Linked DNA regions of Homo sapiens: region 2 is linked to region 1. Evidence: fine-mapped expression QTL. A gene starts in region 1. The other region holds a variant in brackets. All regions are shown on one strand. Distances are between the middles of the regions. Region 1 holds the start of SCML2 (Scm polycomb group protein like 2). Region 2 overlaps SCML2 (Scm polycomb group protein like 2).

Evidence for each region.
Region 2: its variant is fine-mapped to the expression of SCML2 in sigmoid colon (GTEx, PIP 0.94).

The regions. Positions count from the first base shown.
Region 1 is chrX:18,351,219-18,359,561 of GRCh38, forward strand. It overlaps SCML2 (Scm polycomb group protein like 2), which reads right to left and starts at 3,470. Exons shown (of 15, transcript NM_006089.3): 1 at 3,374-3,470. It overlaps LOC124905253 (a long non-coding RNA gene), which reads left to right and starts at 3,963. Exons shown (of 2, transcript XR_007068403.1): 1 at 3,963-4,297; 2 at 7,431-7,668.
Region 2 is chrX:18,328,076-18,336,418 of GRCh38, forward strand. SCML2 (Scm polycomb group protein like 2) reads right to left here. Exons shown (of 15, transcript NM_006089.3): 2 at 5,975-6,020; 3 at 2,512-2,580. The coding sequence starts at 5,996. Among named protein-coding and RNA genes, the nearest start is that of SCML2, 22 kb to the right of the region's middle. The variant A/G (reference allele first, on the strand shown) is at 3,286.

The sequences.
Region 1 (8,343 bases):
GAGATCACGCCACTGCACTACAGCCTGGGCAACACAGCGAGAGCCCATCTCAAAAAAAAAAAAACATCACCAACATTTGCCATTTTCAAAATGTCCAGGTTTTTAGTTCCTGGAATCAACAATCAGTTCAAATTCTAAGGTATTATGTAGTAATTCTCAGACATTAATAATGGTTCTAAAATTATTAGGGATGCTTGATTTGCCCACTGCAAACTACAAAACACCTTCTGGCAATGACAGACTAATCTTTGCACCACAGCTCATAGCTCTAAGGCTGATAGCTGGCAGAGCCCACTTTGTTCTTGTATATCCTAAAAATCAGGAATATGACTATGAGGAGACAGTGAGACCTACCCTCCCCACCCCGAGAGGGTAGCTAATAGAGAGGACCTCCGATTTCCATTCACAAGTGGAATGAGAATAGAGGGAGAAAAATGGCAGACAGAATAACCAGGCAAAAAAAAAAAAAAGACTAGAGGTGACTAATAAGGCAAACAGCAGAGGATACTGCTGTATCCACCCGTGTTCCAGTTACTAGAGTTACAAAAGTCATTGCTATTAACCCCAAAAGAAAGGCAGTAAAATAGTCAAGTGAAACTTTTCTCTCGCACCCCCAAGAGCTCAAACTAAAATTGGGATTTGGCTCTTCCTTAAATGGAACAAGTGGCTACATCAAGTTAATTCAAAAGACTTGGTATTTACTCAGCCTTTTCAAGGCACTTTACCATCATTAATTATTTCTCAGTGAAGCAGCAAAGGATTACCCTGACCATTTCACTGATGCGGAAACAGACACCAACAGCAAAGGGAACAGGGGCAGGAAGAGGGGTGATAGGAAGCATCTGGGAGGAACAGGCAGGCAGCTAAAAAGGAACAAGCCCAAAAGAAAATAAGAGTCACATCTGGCTTATAGCTGAGGATCATAACCCTTATTTGTTATTTCTGAGCTCAGAGATTTCTGCAACATTTTGAAAAAACAAAGTGCTTTAAAATACCAGTTAAAACTTAATTACAGCTTAAACTACTTAGTAATAGAAATTGCTTAGTATTAAAAAATACCCAATCTTCAGAGCACATATTGATTTCCATTTATACCAGCAACTCATTTTTCCCCTCAAGCTTAACCAGTATGTTATCTATTTGAACCAGAAAATAATCTCATGAAAATATATAGCTTTATATAATCCTAACCAAAAAATCACAAAGTTAACATCACGTAAGTCAGAAATAGTTTGCAGCTACACTCAGAATTTTGTTTGGAGAATTATGACAAAAATACTGACTTCTCGAGTTCGCCCTTTGAATGAAAGGAATACTTGTTCTACATTCGTATTGATTTTTTTAGCTATAACTCCCTGAAATTTTCAGGAATAAACTATGGGTGGAAAGCCTTAAACACCCTGAAATTAGCACACGTAGTGGGCTCTGAATAAACTGAACTCCATAGTAAAGACAGCACAGGTGCTTAATAAAGATGTGTTGATGGAATCATAAATCAAAAGGACTGATCAACCACCTCATGAGAAAAACTGATACACCTTTTTTAGACTGACTGTAATGATTTTTGAACGTTATGACACTATCAACTTTAAAGCACCCGCACATATAATGCAGTAGAGTTACAGTAATCTTTTTTCCAACTACCAATTCCAAAGCAAATCAGGTTCTCTGGGGTAAACAAGTATACATCCTTAAGAAGTTCATATGGCTGCATGATGTATATATAAAGTTCATTCAAAACTTTCAAAGCCAGTTTAAATGGTGTTTTTTCTTTACATTCTATCAAACTGTTTTAAAGGTTATAGATAAAGCTAAACACAAGGCATCAGGTGAATACTCATAAACTCAATCTTTTCTCAAAAATCCCACTGGATTCATTTCCAAAAGCTTATTTTCACATTCCTCCCATTAAATAGAAAAAAAAAAAAAAAACACACAAACAGCCTGAAAGCACATTCGTAATTGGAAATATTTTATTTAATGAGTAATTAAGAAAAATAAAAGAAAGGCAAAATCGTCATTATTGAAAAACATTTCCCTCGCTGTTATTGAAAAGAATTAAATATGCGTTTATGAACCATTGTTATAAAACAATTGCTCATCATAGGCAGCTGTACTCCATAAATGTTGTACATCTTAAAATACTTTTCCCTCAAAACAGAAATATGAATAGCTCTGGGGGCATTAAAATGTAGCAGCATCTGAAGCTGTTTTAGGGAAAAAAACAACTATCTCCAATACTTTTGTAAATCATATGATCATAAGCAACTTATTCACTTTCCCTGCCTCAGTTTACCCCCACTAATCGATCCATTAACTTTCCAGAGAAGACCTAAAGTAAGTCATAAACGTTAATCTCCTAATTTACAAACAAGAAGCAAATTTCAAGTTGCAATCACACTTTGTGATGCTTGACAAATGTTTAACAACCTCTTTTTAAAAAATAAATAGTCTCAAATGGGAGCCTGTAAGTAAATACTTGTGCTGCCCAAACATTTGGGGTTTGGGGGAGCCGAATTACAAGTCGGCCCAGGAAGCTATCTATGTACAACCTTGAGGCGCAAAATCGAGCAAATTCGCCTAGACCCATTCTCCCTCCGGCTCTTCACACCTGGATGGGGCGCAAGCACGATACAGGTGGAAAAAGCGAGAAAGGTAAGAAACCATTTCGAGACTGTTTCTAAGTGACGGCAGCAACTTTTTTTCGGTCAGGCCGCGAGGCCGCCTCTCCGCCCCTCAGGAGGCTTAGAGCCCCTCCTCGCCTCCCCGCCAGCCCCGGACGGGACGCGCATTCCGGTCCCGCTGCACCGCTAGGGTGAGCCACCGGCGCCCCCAGCCCCCGCCAGGAGCCCGGCGGCGCGCACCTTGGCACCAGGATTTGCGCCCGCACGCCGCCACAGGCGCATCCTTCCGGGCCGACGTTTCCCTCCCAAACTCCAAAAGTTATCTCAGCCCAGACCAGGCAAAGTCTACCTCCTTCCTCCGCCCCGCCACCCACCGTGATGCCCCCCAGGCCCCAGCCCGGCCCTACCCACGGCAGGGAGGATGCGCCGGAGGGCGCTGTCGGCGCTGCAGGCGAGGGGACGGGTGGAAGCTATCGGCCGGGCGCCCAAACCCCGCGGCGGCGAAAAGGCCCCGGGGCGGCGTGAGGGGAAACGCGAGATCGGCTGAAGGGCGTCCGCGGAAGGCGCCGGGGGCGGGATACCCTATCGCGAAGCCGAACTGAGATGGGACATAGGCGGGATCGTAAGGGGGCGTTCCTCGCACGGGACGCGCGCTGATGGCTTCTACCCGCCCGCCCACGGACAACGGTCGGGGTCCGGGACACACCTCCGCCTCTCCATTCCTTACGGGGCCCGGAATCACCACGTACCTCCAGTCTCGTCGGTGAAAACAACGAAATTCTGTCCCACCGATCGCGCGAGCCGGCACCGAGCTTCACACCGCCGCCGCCATGTTTGAGAAGCCGCGCGCGGAGCCGCGCATGCCCCGCAACCGCCACTGCCGCCCCGCCCCCCGCGCGGCCGGCCCGCGTGCCCTGCGGTTGCCGCGAGCACGCCCTTTGACCGCCGCCGCGTGCGGGGCCCGAGCCGGGGTCAAGCCGAGCGCCACCGCAGGCAGTGGCGGACCATGAGACACTGTGAGCCCGGGAAAGCCCTTGGCACTTTGCCTCCTACCCCCCACGCCTACGCCAAATGAAAAACCAGTCGCAGCCCAAGCACCCGAGGCCGTGGGGAGCCCCTCGATGGGACCCCGGGTTCCACGTCAAGTTCCATCCCGGGAACTCGCTCCCCTTCACTGTCGCCTTCGAATCCTGGCCACCACCCACCCTGGCCACGCACCCAAAAAGCAGGCGCTTCCCTCGGAACTCAAGCAAGTTCGAGGAGCAGGGAGAAGCAGCTGGTTACAGCAGCTTGAGGAAAGCCACTGCTTGGCGGGTTGCAGCATAGTCCTTGAAACTGCTTTTTTTTTTTTTTTCCATGAGTTTTTGCCACGCATTCACCTCCCAGCTTCACTCTCTGGATTTCGTTCTTCCTCTAAACCCGGGGTTGAGCTAACGGGAACTAGATGAACCCGCAGGGGGAAATCACTTGCTTACTGACTCAGGAGCATCCCCGAGAGTGCGTTTTGGGGTCCCTTCTGCACGCTCCCTTTCCCACCGGGCAAGGCCCATAGCGCAAGTGGAGGTCGCACAAAGGAGGGGGCGTAAAAACAGCTTTAAAACGACCAGTGAATCTCTCAGCACAAATTACAGCAAACAGAACGCCGGAGAAAAACATCTGTCCCTCGTTCTCAGGTTAGGTATAAGCTGATTTCAAACTTTTGTTTGAAAAATAATACAATGTGCTATGTTAGCCAAAAACAAACCATTGCTAGGGCTTCTCTCTCTGGAACTCTTTCCAAAGCTGGATGTAGGTTTTGCATCTGTGATCACCTAACTTAGTGCAGAGGGCATGATATACTTTTTAAATCATGATTTGGAAATCAGAGCTTAAAACTGAGAACAAAAAACTCCTGTGGAATATATCCATTGTCTACAACGCAGGATAGAATTTTCCAGTTGCAGCTTCTGCAGTATTAAGCAAAAGTCAAAGTGTTTATTATATCTAAACATTGGCAAGTGGCACAGAATCAAATGGATCTATTATTTAATGCTTTAAAAATGAAAACCTAAATGTTAATGCCAAATTCAAGTAAACTTTAAGGCGAAAATAGAAAGACTAGGTTGATGATATGCAAATATTAAAGTGAGATTTGGTCCTATCAATTCTATAATGTATATCACATAGGAGAAAATGTTGGAGTGTCCTAAGATGAAGGTTCAAGCATGTTTTTTGAGACAAGAGTCTCGTTTTGTCGCCCAGGCTGGAGAGCAGTGGCACGATCTCGGCTCACTGCAACCTCCGCCTCCCGGGTTCAAGCGATTCTCCTGCCTCAGCCTCCTGAGTAGCTGGGACTACAGTCGCGTGCCACTAGGCCCGGCTAATTTTTTGTATTTTTAGTAGAGACGGGGTTTCATCGTGTTAGCCAGGATGGTCTCGATCTCCCGACCTCATGATCCACCCGCCTCTGCCTCCCAAAGTGCTGGGATTACACGCGTGAGCCACTACGCCCGGCCCAAACATGTTTTCAAAAGCCAGAAAGAGGCCGGACGCGGTGGCTCACGCCTGTAATCCCAGCACTTTGGGAGGCCGAGGCGAGTGGATCACCTGAGGTCGGGAGTTGGAGACCAGCCTGACCAACATGGAGAAACCCTGTCTCTACTAAAAGTACAAAATATTAGCCGGGCGTGGTGGCACGCGCCTGTAATCCCAGCTATTCGGGAGGCTGAGGCAGGAGAATCGCTTGAACCTGGGAAGCAGAGGTTGCCGTGAGCCGAGATCGCGCCATTGCACTCCAGCCTGGGCAACAAGAGCGAAATTCTGTCTCAAAAAAAAAAAAAAAAAAAAAAAGCCAGAAGGAGATCTTTAACAGAAAGAAATTAAACAGAGGTTTAATCTAAACAAACCTTATTATGGGCACCAGCAGGGCTGAGGAGGACATAAATTCTTAATTAGTGGCCACTGTCCTTCTAATCCCAATGCAATGGAAATATTTGAAATTCATCTCTACATTCTATGTATGAAAGATTTATTTGGGACTCCATCTCAAAAAAAAAAGAAAGATTTACTTTGGCTTGTCACATACCTTTTTTACGTCTATGGATTCTATTAAATTGTAGGAATTCTACTATGATTGCTGAATTGCCTGGCTCACTGATGCCTAATCTATTTTTCATATTTCTGTTAACATGAAATTACTGAAGCCCTTATTCTAAAAATGAAATTTGAATTATCTATCCTAGAACATCTTCTCAGTTACTATCCTCACCAAAGGATTTATAGATGTGTGACTCTTCGTTATATTAAATCTGAGTTATCGATAATAACAATAGCTACCATTTATTGAGCATGTGCTGAGAATCACGCTAGTCTCTTTAGAGATAAATTTCCAATATTTGCAATGTTCTTTCACAACTTTCCTATGAGGTAGGTACTCTCATTCCCATTTTACAGATGAGGAAAATAAATTAATACACAGCAAATAAGTGGCAGTTAGCTTTTGAATATATTAATATATTCAAATATGTCCTAATAATTCCTTCCACCCTTGTCATCAATTGTGCTTTTATCCACTACGTATATAAACTTTTCAATAATTATTTTATTATACCCTGCTTTTCCACCTTTGCCAAAATAAATTTGAGACAGTTTTTTCATAATGTTAACACAGGTTGGAACATCACCGTTTCTCTTACATTATATGTAAGTCTCTTGCCCATAGTAGGAATTTGGTAAATATTTGTTGAATGAGTGAATAGATAAATGGATAAATGAATACCTACTGTTATTATGTTCGATTAACTTTGCCTAGAAAACATGAAAATAAAGAAACTGTGAACTGAAAGAATAAGAACTAAAGCTGGTAAAATCCAAGTTTTCATGATTTATTTTTCAAGCCTCAGATTTGCTCCTGTGAATTTGCTCTTATAGTTCTCCTGATTTGGCACCAAACCTGTGACAACCTTCAAAAAAACACATCACCCCACCCAGTCCAAGTCCAGGGCAAAATACTCCTGTATTTCAAGTGTGTTTTATTGCTTCCTTTTGTACCTTTTTTAGAGTTCAATATTAGTGAGAGTGAAAAGATAATCTTCCCTAGATAAGCAAGTTTAATCTAGATCTTCATCAGTACACATGCTTATGTTGAAACAATATCGGCCAGGCGCGGTGGCTCACACCTGTAATCCCTCCACTTTGGGAGGCCGAGGCAGGTGGATCACCTGAGGTCAGGAGTTTGAGACCAGCCTGGCCAACATGGCGAAACCCAGTCTCTACTAAAAATACAAAAATTAGCCAGGTGGCGTGGCGGGCGCCTGTAATCCTAGCTACTTGAGAGTCTGAGGCAGGAGAATCGCTTGAACCCGGGAGGTGGAGGCTGCAGTGAGCCGCGATCGTGCCACTGCACTCCAGCCTGGGCAACAAGAACGAAACTTCGTCTCGGAAAAAAAAAAAAAAGAAACAATGTAATTTGCATACATAAAGTTAACGTTTTAGGATGAGTGAAGACTCCCTCTAGTTTTCCTACTAAATGGGCATCTTTCTCCCTAAAACACAGAAGCCTAACTAAGCCTGGCAGAGACTGGAGCTCCAAGTTGTAACTAGTAAACCCACTATTCATATTTTTACCTTAGTGTAAAAATCCATAGAATGGGTATTAAATAACTGATTGTTTAAAATAGTGACTTTACAAATATCTTCAGATCCCTGTTTCTAACAATTTGCCCTTTTTTCCCCATTAAACCAAGAGCACATATCTGTAAGATATAAATTGTTTTCAGTATTGTTATGGTTGCTTACAATAAACCTCTTCTTTTAACTTCAAAATAGTAACTTCCCTGGAAAAAGATCAAGAAGTGAAGTGCAATAGGAAGACAGAGAAGCTAGTCTAACAGGAAGGCATCGTATTCTAGCAAAAGGAGGACCGGCCCTGTCTCTCGTCTGGAATCTCAAGTCTATCATTAGTCTATCTCAACTAACTAACTGTATTTCTTTAGAACCTTTCCATGCCTCAGATTGTTTTAATTTTTTTAATGGGGATAATAAAATCTGCTACATTTACTTCACAGATGGGGAAAATACTAGTCAAATCTATCAGAAAACCACATGGTCTTTGCTTAACAAATCCCCACATTTAAAAAAGTAAAATTACATTAGCCTTTTACCAACAAAGTGCATGACACCTAAGCTGACTTTGGCCAAGTCAAGTGTTTTATATGCTGTGAAAACTAACATAACCTCAGTGAACACTACGCTACATTTGACCATTATTACATTCAGCCAGTCCTTCATTCAGTGATGTATTGAATGCTTATGTGCCACTCTGCCAGAAGTGAGAATACCAGGATGAATAAGACAGTTTGAATACTCCAGGAGTTTACACCCCATCCAAAGAGGAGAGACAGAGATAGATAGACGTATGTTTTAAGATCTTCAGAGGAACTAGGATCTATTACCACACCCTTCCCCATATCGAACCTTTTTAGATGTACCTATATTATATTTTTTGTATAACTAGATGAATGGAATTAGAGTTGACCAGCTGACAACTGGCCTTTTGGACATTTCACTAAAACATTTATCATTTTGATTTTCATGCCTGTAATCCTAGCACTTTGGGAGACCGAGGCAAGTGGATCACTTGAGCCCAGCAGTTTGAGACCAGCCTGGGCAATATGGCAAAACCTCGTCTCTACACAATAAATACATACATACATACATAATCCAAAAATTAGCTGGGCAT
Region 2 (8,343 bases), 23 kb before region 1:
GTTATTCACATGTGCCCATGGTCTCTTCTTTTTTTATTTGTACTCTATTCTAGTCTACACATTAGCTCCAACATCTTTTTGTACTGAATATAACCCATATGAGCTCCCCTGGTCTTCTCTAGAGTAAATCAGAATCATGTCTTCCACCAGTGCTATCCTTGGGATCCCTTGCTATGTGAAGATGGGCAAAATACCTAGAGATAGAAGTTTCTCAGCTGAATGATCAGCATCCACTAATTCACAGCATTTATCACAACTACAATTAGGCATCTGTTAATTTCTATCTTGCCCACTAAGCTCAAAGAGGGTAAGAGGCTGGGTGCAGTGGCTCACACCTGTAATACCAGCACTTTGGGAGGCTGAGGCGGGCAGATCGCTTGAGCCCAGGAGTTCAATACCAGCCTGGGAAACACAGAGAGACCCCGTCTCTACAAAAAATTGTTAAAAATTGCCAGGCATGGTAGTGCACGCCTGTGGTCCCACATACTCGGGAGGCTGAAGTGAGAGGATCACTTGAGACCAGAAGGTCAAAGCTGCAATGAGCCATGATCATGCCACTGCACTCTGGCCTGCATGACAGAGTAAAACCTTGTCTCAATCAGTCAGTCAATAAAAGAGGGCAGGAATCATGTCTATATTGTTCGTAACTGGATTCCCATAGCAGGTCATCAGCATGTGCCAGGCACTGTCCTAGGTACTGCAGATGCATGAGTTAATAAAACAGATTAAAACCCTGGCTCTCTTGGAGCTTACCTTCTGGTAGTCACTCACTGATTTCTAAAATAGGATGTTAGGGCCCAGGCCTGAGAAGTATCTGCAGATGGCTATCAACTTAAGTAATCTATTTTTTTAATTAAATGTCTAGAATGGGAAAATCTATAGAGGCAGAAAGTAGACCTGTGTTTGCCTAGAGCTGGGGGAGACAGGAGGCACTAGGGAGAAATGGGGAGTACTGTTAATGGGTACAGGATTTCTTTTTAGGGGGATAAAAATGTTCTAAAATTGACTGTGGTGGTGGTTGCACAACTCTGTGAACATACTGAAAACCATTGAATTGTGCACTCTAAATAGGTGAATTATATGATATTTGAATTATAACTCAGTAAAGCTGTTATATTTTTAAAAACAGATGGAGAGGAGTTTGTAGGGATAAGGAACAGTCTAATTCAATGGCCTCCATTTCCTCAGAGGATTTGGGGGTCCCAGGGAAGAGTTGAAGAACAAATAAGGCCATGGTAAAGAAAGTTAAGGGAGCACTGAGGGCCCAGCTACAGTGAGAGAACAACAATTCCGTGGGGATTACCTCTATAGGCAATCTTCAAGTAGGAACAGAAGGTCATAGGGTGAACTGCTCTGCACTGGGGCTGGCAGGGCAGATACAACAGAAACACAAGGGGCAAGAAATCTCTGGAAATGTCTGGTAAAACAATAGTTTGCTACGTTATTTTTTAATGCCTTTTGTGTACATATGACTTATTTTCTCATTTAAGAGCAAGCCAATGCATCAGATTCTATTACATCTCCTGAGTGTCTCTGATGCAATATTATACATGTACTGTTCATAATAAGGAACATGAATTAATAAAGTTAACATTTACTGAACACTTACTATATGCCTAGGCATTATATTAGGTGCTTTAAATTCATTTCCTCTATTTATTTCCAGTAGTGCCATGAGATAAGTACTATCATTATCCCTGTGTTATAAAGAAGAAAAAAGAGCCGGGCACAGTGGCTCACGCCTGTAATCCCAGCATTTTGGGAGGTTGAGGCAAGTGGATCACCTGAGGTCAGAGGTTTGAGACCAGCCTAGCCAGCACAGTGAAACCCCATGTCTACTAAAAATACAAAAACTAGCCAGGCGTGGTGGTGCATGCCTGTAGTCCCAGCTACTCGGGAGGCTGAGGCACAAAAATCGCTTGAACCCGGAAGGTGGAGGTTGCAGTGAGCCAAGATCACACCACTGCACTCCAGCCTGGGTGACACAGCGAGACTCTGTCTCAAAGAAAGAAGAAGAAAAAACGTCTAAGAGCTGTTGAGTAATGTGCCCAAGGTCACCATGGCCAGTAAGGAGTGAGGACAGAATTCCAGAACACATCTGTCGGACTCACCACAATGCCTATAAGCTCTTAACCACTGAACTGTCTTCTGACCATGAAAAAAAAGCTTTCACATTGACTGTAACGTTAGAAGGGTTTTTGCTAATAACCAAATTATTTTAAATTGGTAATACATGGCAATTAATAACTAGATACCTATAATTTAGGAAAATTTGCACTGAAATATACAAAGTTACCCTTTTACTTAATCCGTGTCAACTTATCTCTAAGTAAAATTTTCAAAATAAAATACAATTTTTGACCTTTCTTATTACATTTTGTATTTACAGAAGTTTACAGTATACAGACTGTACAATAAGAAATCAAAACAATAAGAAAATTTGCACTTAAAGTTAATTTTAACACTAGTGAGGAAGAAAACTATGCTGTATTAAATTACTTTAAAACCTACCCCTTTGTACAGAAGATGTACTTGACTGAGGAGTTTTCTCTTGATTCTCCTTCTTGACATCCATGGAATCTAATAAAAAAGAAAATAGCAATACTGGGAGTCCACAGCAACAGCTTGAAAGAGCACTCAGAAAAATATAAATTAAAAAACTTTAAAGAGCCAATTTTAGTTTTATAATATCTTCATTTTCTATGTAGGACTTACCATTTTCTAATGTACTATGCATTTTATAATCTGCTCATTTATTGTCTCACTCTACTCAAATGAAATCTCCAAAAGGGCAGAGATTTATTTATTTTATTGTCTATCTCATTCACTGTGGTATCCTCAAGCGCCTAAAACAGGACCTGGCATCGCAACACTCTCAAGCATTTGTTAAATCAATGCATCAGGCCAGGCGTGGTGGCTCACGCCTGTAATTCCAGCACTTGAGGAGGCCAAGGCAGGCAGATCACATGAGGTCACGAGTTTGAGACCAGCCAGGCCAACATGCGAAACCCTGTCTCTCCTAAAAATAGAAAAAATTAGCCAGGCATGGTGGCGGGCACCTGTAATCCCAGCTACTCGGGCAGCTGAGACAAGAGAATCACTTGAACCCGGGAGGCAGAGGTTGCAGTGAGCTGAGATCGTGCCATTGCACTCCAGCCTGGGTGACAGAGCGAGACTCCGTCTCAAAAAAAAAAAAAAAAAAAAAAAAAAAAAAATCAGTGCATCAATAAATCAAAATGAGCTGATCTTTACAATGTTTAAATTAACATGTCCTAGAAATAAAAC[A/G]GATGCTTTTGAGAGTTCAAAACATAACAGAGAAGCTACAATACACTGTAATTCAATGGACTGGGCAGAGATTTTCTTGGTGCTAAGCTAAAGAGCTCAAATAACACTGGACCTGGTAACCTCACCAAATCTAAGATGTATCATTTCATCCACATGTATTATAGTATGTATCTCTAAAAGGACTCATTTTTAAAAACTTAAGCATAATATTTCTATTACATCTAAAAAAATTAACCATAATTCCTTAAAATCATCAAATAACCAGTGTTCCCCAATTGTCTTAACTATTTTTAGTGTGTATGCTTGATTCAGAACCCAAATAAGTCCACACACATAGCAATGGTTGATATGTCTCTTACATCTCTTTTGATCTACAGGTGTCTTCCTCCTTTCTTCTCGTTTTTATTCTTCCCCTTTACAATTTTTTTGCTGACAATACCAGTTGGTTGGTCCTTTCAAGTTTTCCAGTCTGGATTTTGCTGACTACCTCCCCACAGAGTTCGGTTCCTCTGTTTCTTGTATTTTCTTTAAATTGGCATTCATATTTCAATCCAGAAGAGTTTGGTCAGATTTAAGATTGGCTTTTTGGTGGGAGAGGAGAGGATAAGATGACTTCATAGGTGGTGTTGTGTATTTCTCACAGGAGGCTCCTAATATCTAGTTATCTCTCTTTTCGTGATGTGAACAGTCGTGGATGGCTATTGCCTAGATCCTTTCGTTTATTAATGGTTGCAAAATGAAGGTATTCTAATTCTATCATTCTTTATTAGCCAGAAAACTTCTATAGAGAGAAGCTTCCATGCTTCAACCATTCAGTTACCTTAAGGCACGGATCACATAGAGAAATCACAATCAGCACTTTATTATTTTCCTGTATTTCTAGTTTTCAAAGTGATGAGCTGGATCTCTAGCATTCTCCACAGATGACCAGTAAGTTTTATTTGTTTTGCTTTTTATTATCATTATGAACTCATGGATTTAAACATACTTGTGTTGCTATTTTACCCTTACCGATGTTCTAATTGTCAAGTGACAAACTTCTTAAAGAAGGATCTAAGAATGATGCCATTCAACGTAACAGATCTACTTACTAGTTATGACTGAGTGACTCTTCAAGATGTGTGAACACTTGAGAGGGATATATGAGCTGCTTTCTGTTTAAATGATTTCAACTGAGTGGTTGAAGAAAGGTAGTTTCTCTATATAGAAATTTTTTGGCCAATAAAGAATGATAGAATACCTTCATTTTACAACTACTAATAAATGAATGGATCCAGGGAATAGCCATCCATGACTTTTTGTGATTTTTCACATCACAAAAAGAGATAACTAGGTTGGATGTGACAGCTCACACCTGTAATCCCACCACTTTGGGAGGCCAAGGAGGGAGGATCACTTGAGGCCAGGAGTTTGAGGCCAACCTGAGCAACACAGCAAGACCCAGTCTCCACAAAAATTTTTTTAAAAAATTAGCCAGGTGTGGTGGCACACATCTGCAGCCTCACCTGCTTGGGAGGCCAAGGCAGGAGGATCACTTGAGCCCAGGAGTTTGGGGTTACAGTAAGCTATGATTACGCCACTGCACTCTAGTCTGAGTAATTTCATCTCTGTAAAAAAATATTTTTTAAAAAAAGGCCAGGCACGTTGGTTCATGCCTGTAATCCCAGCACTTTGAGAGGCCGAGGCGGGAAGATCACTTGAGGTCAGGAGTTCGAAAGCAGCCTGGCCAACATGGCAAAACCCTGTCTCTACTAAAAATACAAAAAATTAGCCAGGTGTGGTAGCTCACGTCTGTGGCCCCAGCCTCTCAGGAGGCTAAGGCAAGAGGATCACTTAAGCCCAGGAGGCAGAGATTGCAATGAGCCATGATCGTGCCACTGCCCTCCAGCCTGGACAACAGAGCAAAACCCTGTCTCAAAAAAAAATAAAAATAAAAATTTAAAAAAAGACAGAGAGAGATAACTAGATATTAGGAGTCTCCTGTGAGAAATACACAACACCACTTATGAAGTCATCTTATCCTCTCCTCTCTCACCAAAAAGCCAAACTTGAATCTGTACAAAGAACGTACAAATTTGTATTTACTAAATAGTTCTACAGAAGGATTTTTCTAAAAGAAAACAAAGTAAAACTGTAAAGGCATGCTTAGCTTCTAGAGAAGCTAAGAATCTAGTCAAGAGACTACACTAAACTGATACACTTAAAATTAGAGAACAGCATTTAGTACTCAGCATTCAGCCAGAGGAAAAGTCATGAGAGATACAGCGCTTGAAGGAGAAACAGGATGTAGGAAGGCCAATATGTAAAGAATGTATTATGGGAAGGAAGATACAACACAAAGCTGACTGCAAATGAGTGTGGCATATTCATGGAATAGTGAGCAGACTTCTCATAGAGCAAAACAGGATGAAACATTTTTTAATCACTCTTTGGATTCTAATCTTGGCTTTGTCACAAACTGTTGTATGACCTTAACCTCTCTAAGTTTCAGTTTTCTCATTTATATAACTAGCAAGGAAAGACAATGACCTTTAATAGCTATTCAGTTCTAAAATTCAAATTCTAAGCACCTAGCATCTCCTATAAATTTATTTTTTAAAGGCTTTATTTCAAAAGTTCAGTATACCAGAAGATATTCATTCCAAATGAGTAACTAAAAACATTATTGCCTTTAACAAGTAAATCTTACCTTCATTCACTGTTTGTCCCATGGTATCCCTATTTGGTGTTGTTTCCTACAAGGAGAAAAACCAATTAATGCCTCCTTTTAGCATATTAGATTTCTGAAGGATAAGAAGTCAGTTATAAGGCCAGATCAATTTAATCTGTTTCCCTTAAACAAAAATGATAAGATTTGTATATGCCTAGTTGCCTGGGAATGGAGGAAGAAGGAATTGAGGAGTGACTGCTAAGGGGCATGAATATGGGTATGAAGTTTCCTTTGTGGGATAATGAAAGTGTCCTAGAATTAGATAGTGGTGATGGTTATACGCCTTGTTGTGAAAATACTAAAAATCATTGAATTGTATACCTTAAAAGGGTGAGTTTTATGGTATGCAAATTTTGACTCAATTTTTAAAATTAATTGAGTAAAAAAGAACAGTTGGTAGGTTAGCAAAGTTAGGATTCAAACTGAGGCCTATTCCAGGAAGCCCACTTCTGCTACATCATGTTGCCAAGAGGTACAAGAATTATGACCGTGTTGGGAAAACCTGTAAGAACTGCAAGAGTCAAGTCTAACAAGAATTATTTGTTAGAAGCCTTGTGTATTTTGAGCTATAATTCATTAATTCAAACTTTTCCTGCATGTCCTCAATATGCCAGACATTCTGCAGCAAAGATAAATAACAGGCTGTCCTTGGCCTCCAAGACCCCAGTCTAGTCAGAAATAAGCATATGAACAAAACACAATATAAGTGCTATAAAAAAATATGTACATGGATAAACCTAATATGGCAAAAGGCTATCTATCCCGCCATTACTCCATGTGCCTGTAATAAGAACATGATGATGTGTATAACTGAAGGTAATCTGGCACTTAAAGTAAACCTATGAAGAATACATTCATAGGCTGGGTGCAGTGGCTCATGCCTGTAATCCTAGCACTTTGGGAGGCCAAGGCGGGTGGATTTCTTGAGCCCAGCAGTTCAAGATCAGCCTGGGACACTCAGCATCAGAGACACTGATCAATTAAAGACTATAGCCCAGTGGCTAAAGAAACAGACAAGAAAGTAAAATATATACGGGGTGTTGAATCCACACAGATGATAAAGCACTGTAATCCAGGTAGTAAGTGAAGGTACTTACCGACTCTCATCAAAGAGCAAAAACCTGTGAATTACATTAAAATGAGTCTTATCAGGCTGGGCACAGTGGCTCATGCCTGTAATCCCAGCACTTTGGGAAGCCGAGGTGGGTGGATCACTTGAGCCCAGGGGTTCGAGACCAGCCTGGGCAACATGGTGAAACTCTATCTCTACAAAAAATTTAAAAATTAGCCAGGTGTGGTGGTACATGCCTGTAGTCTCAGCTATTCAGGAGGCTGAGGTGGGAAAATCACCTGAGCCCGGGAAATCCAGGCTGCAGTAAGCTGTGATTGTGCCACTGTACTCCACCCTGGGAGTCAGAGTGAGACCCTGCCTCAAAAAAATAAATAAATAAATAGTCTTATTACTATACAAATGAATTCAGTCCAATAAACTGAGGGATGGGTCACACACAGAAGATATAACCAGGTTCCCATGTTCTCTCAAATATCTAACCCATAGCTGAATGCTTAACTCAGCTGGTAGCAATTGCTTCCATTGGCTGAATAAGTTATTTTTGTAATCCTGGAAGGAGTGAAAATACGTATACAGATGATCGAAAATACATACTTGAAGAAAACCTAAATAAATCACCATATTCACAAGCTGGAAGACTCAATATTCTTAAGATGTCAATTCTCCCCAAATTAATCTGCAGAACCAACAAACTGATCATCAAAATCCTCATAGGGTCTTCAGAGAAATATGCTGATTCTAAAATTTATATTTTTGAAAATGGAGAAGATTAGAATAGCTAAAACAATCTTCAAAAAGAACAAAGATGGAGAATTTACATCATCTTATTTCAAGACATAGTATAAGGCAACGGTATTCAAAACTGTGTGACATTGGCATAGGATATACAAATTAGATCAGTGGAAACAGGCTAGGCAGTCCGGAAATAGACCCACAAATATTTGGTCAATTGATTTTCAACTCAGGGAACAAGGTAATCCAATGGGAAAAAGAAAAATATTTTTAAAAGAATGATCCCATTGGCGGGCATGGTGGCTCATGCCTGCAATCCCAGCACTTTGGGAGGCCGAGGCAGATCATGAAGTCAAGAGATCGAGACCATCCTGGCCAACATGGTGAAACCCCGTCTCTACTAAAAATACAAAAATTAGCTGGGCGTGGTGGCATGCACCTGTAGTCCCAGCTACTTGGGAGGCTGAGGCAGGAGGAGCACTTGAACCCAGGAGGCGGAGGTTGCAATGAGCCGAGATCATGCCACTGCACTCCAGCCTGGCGA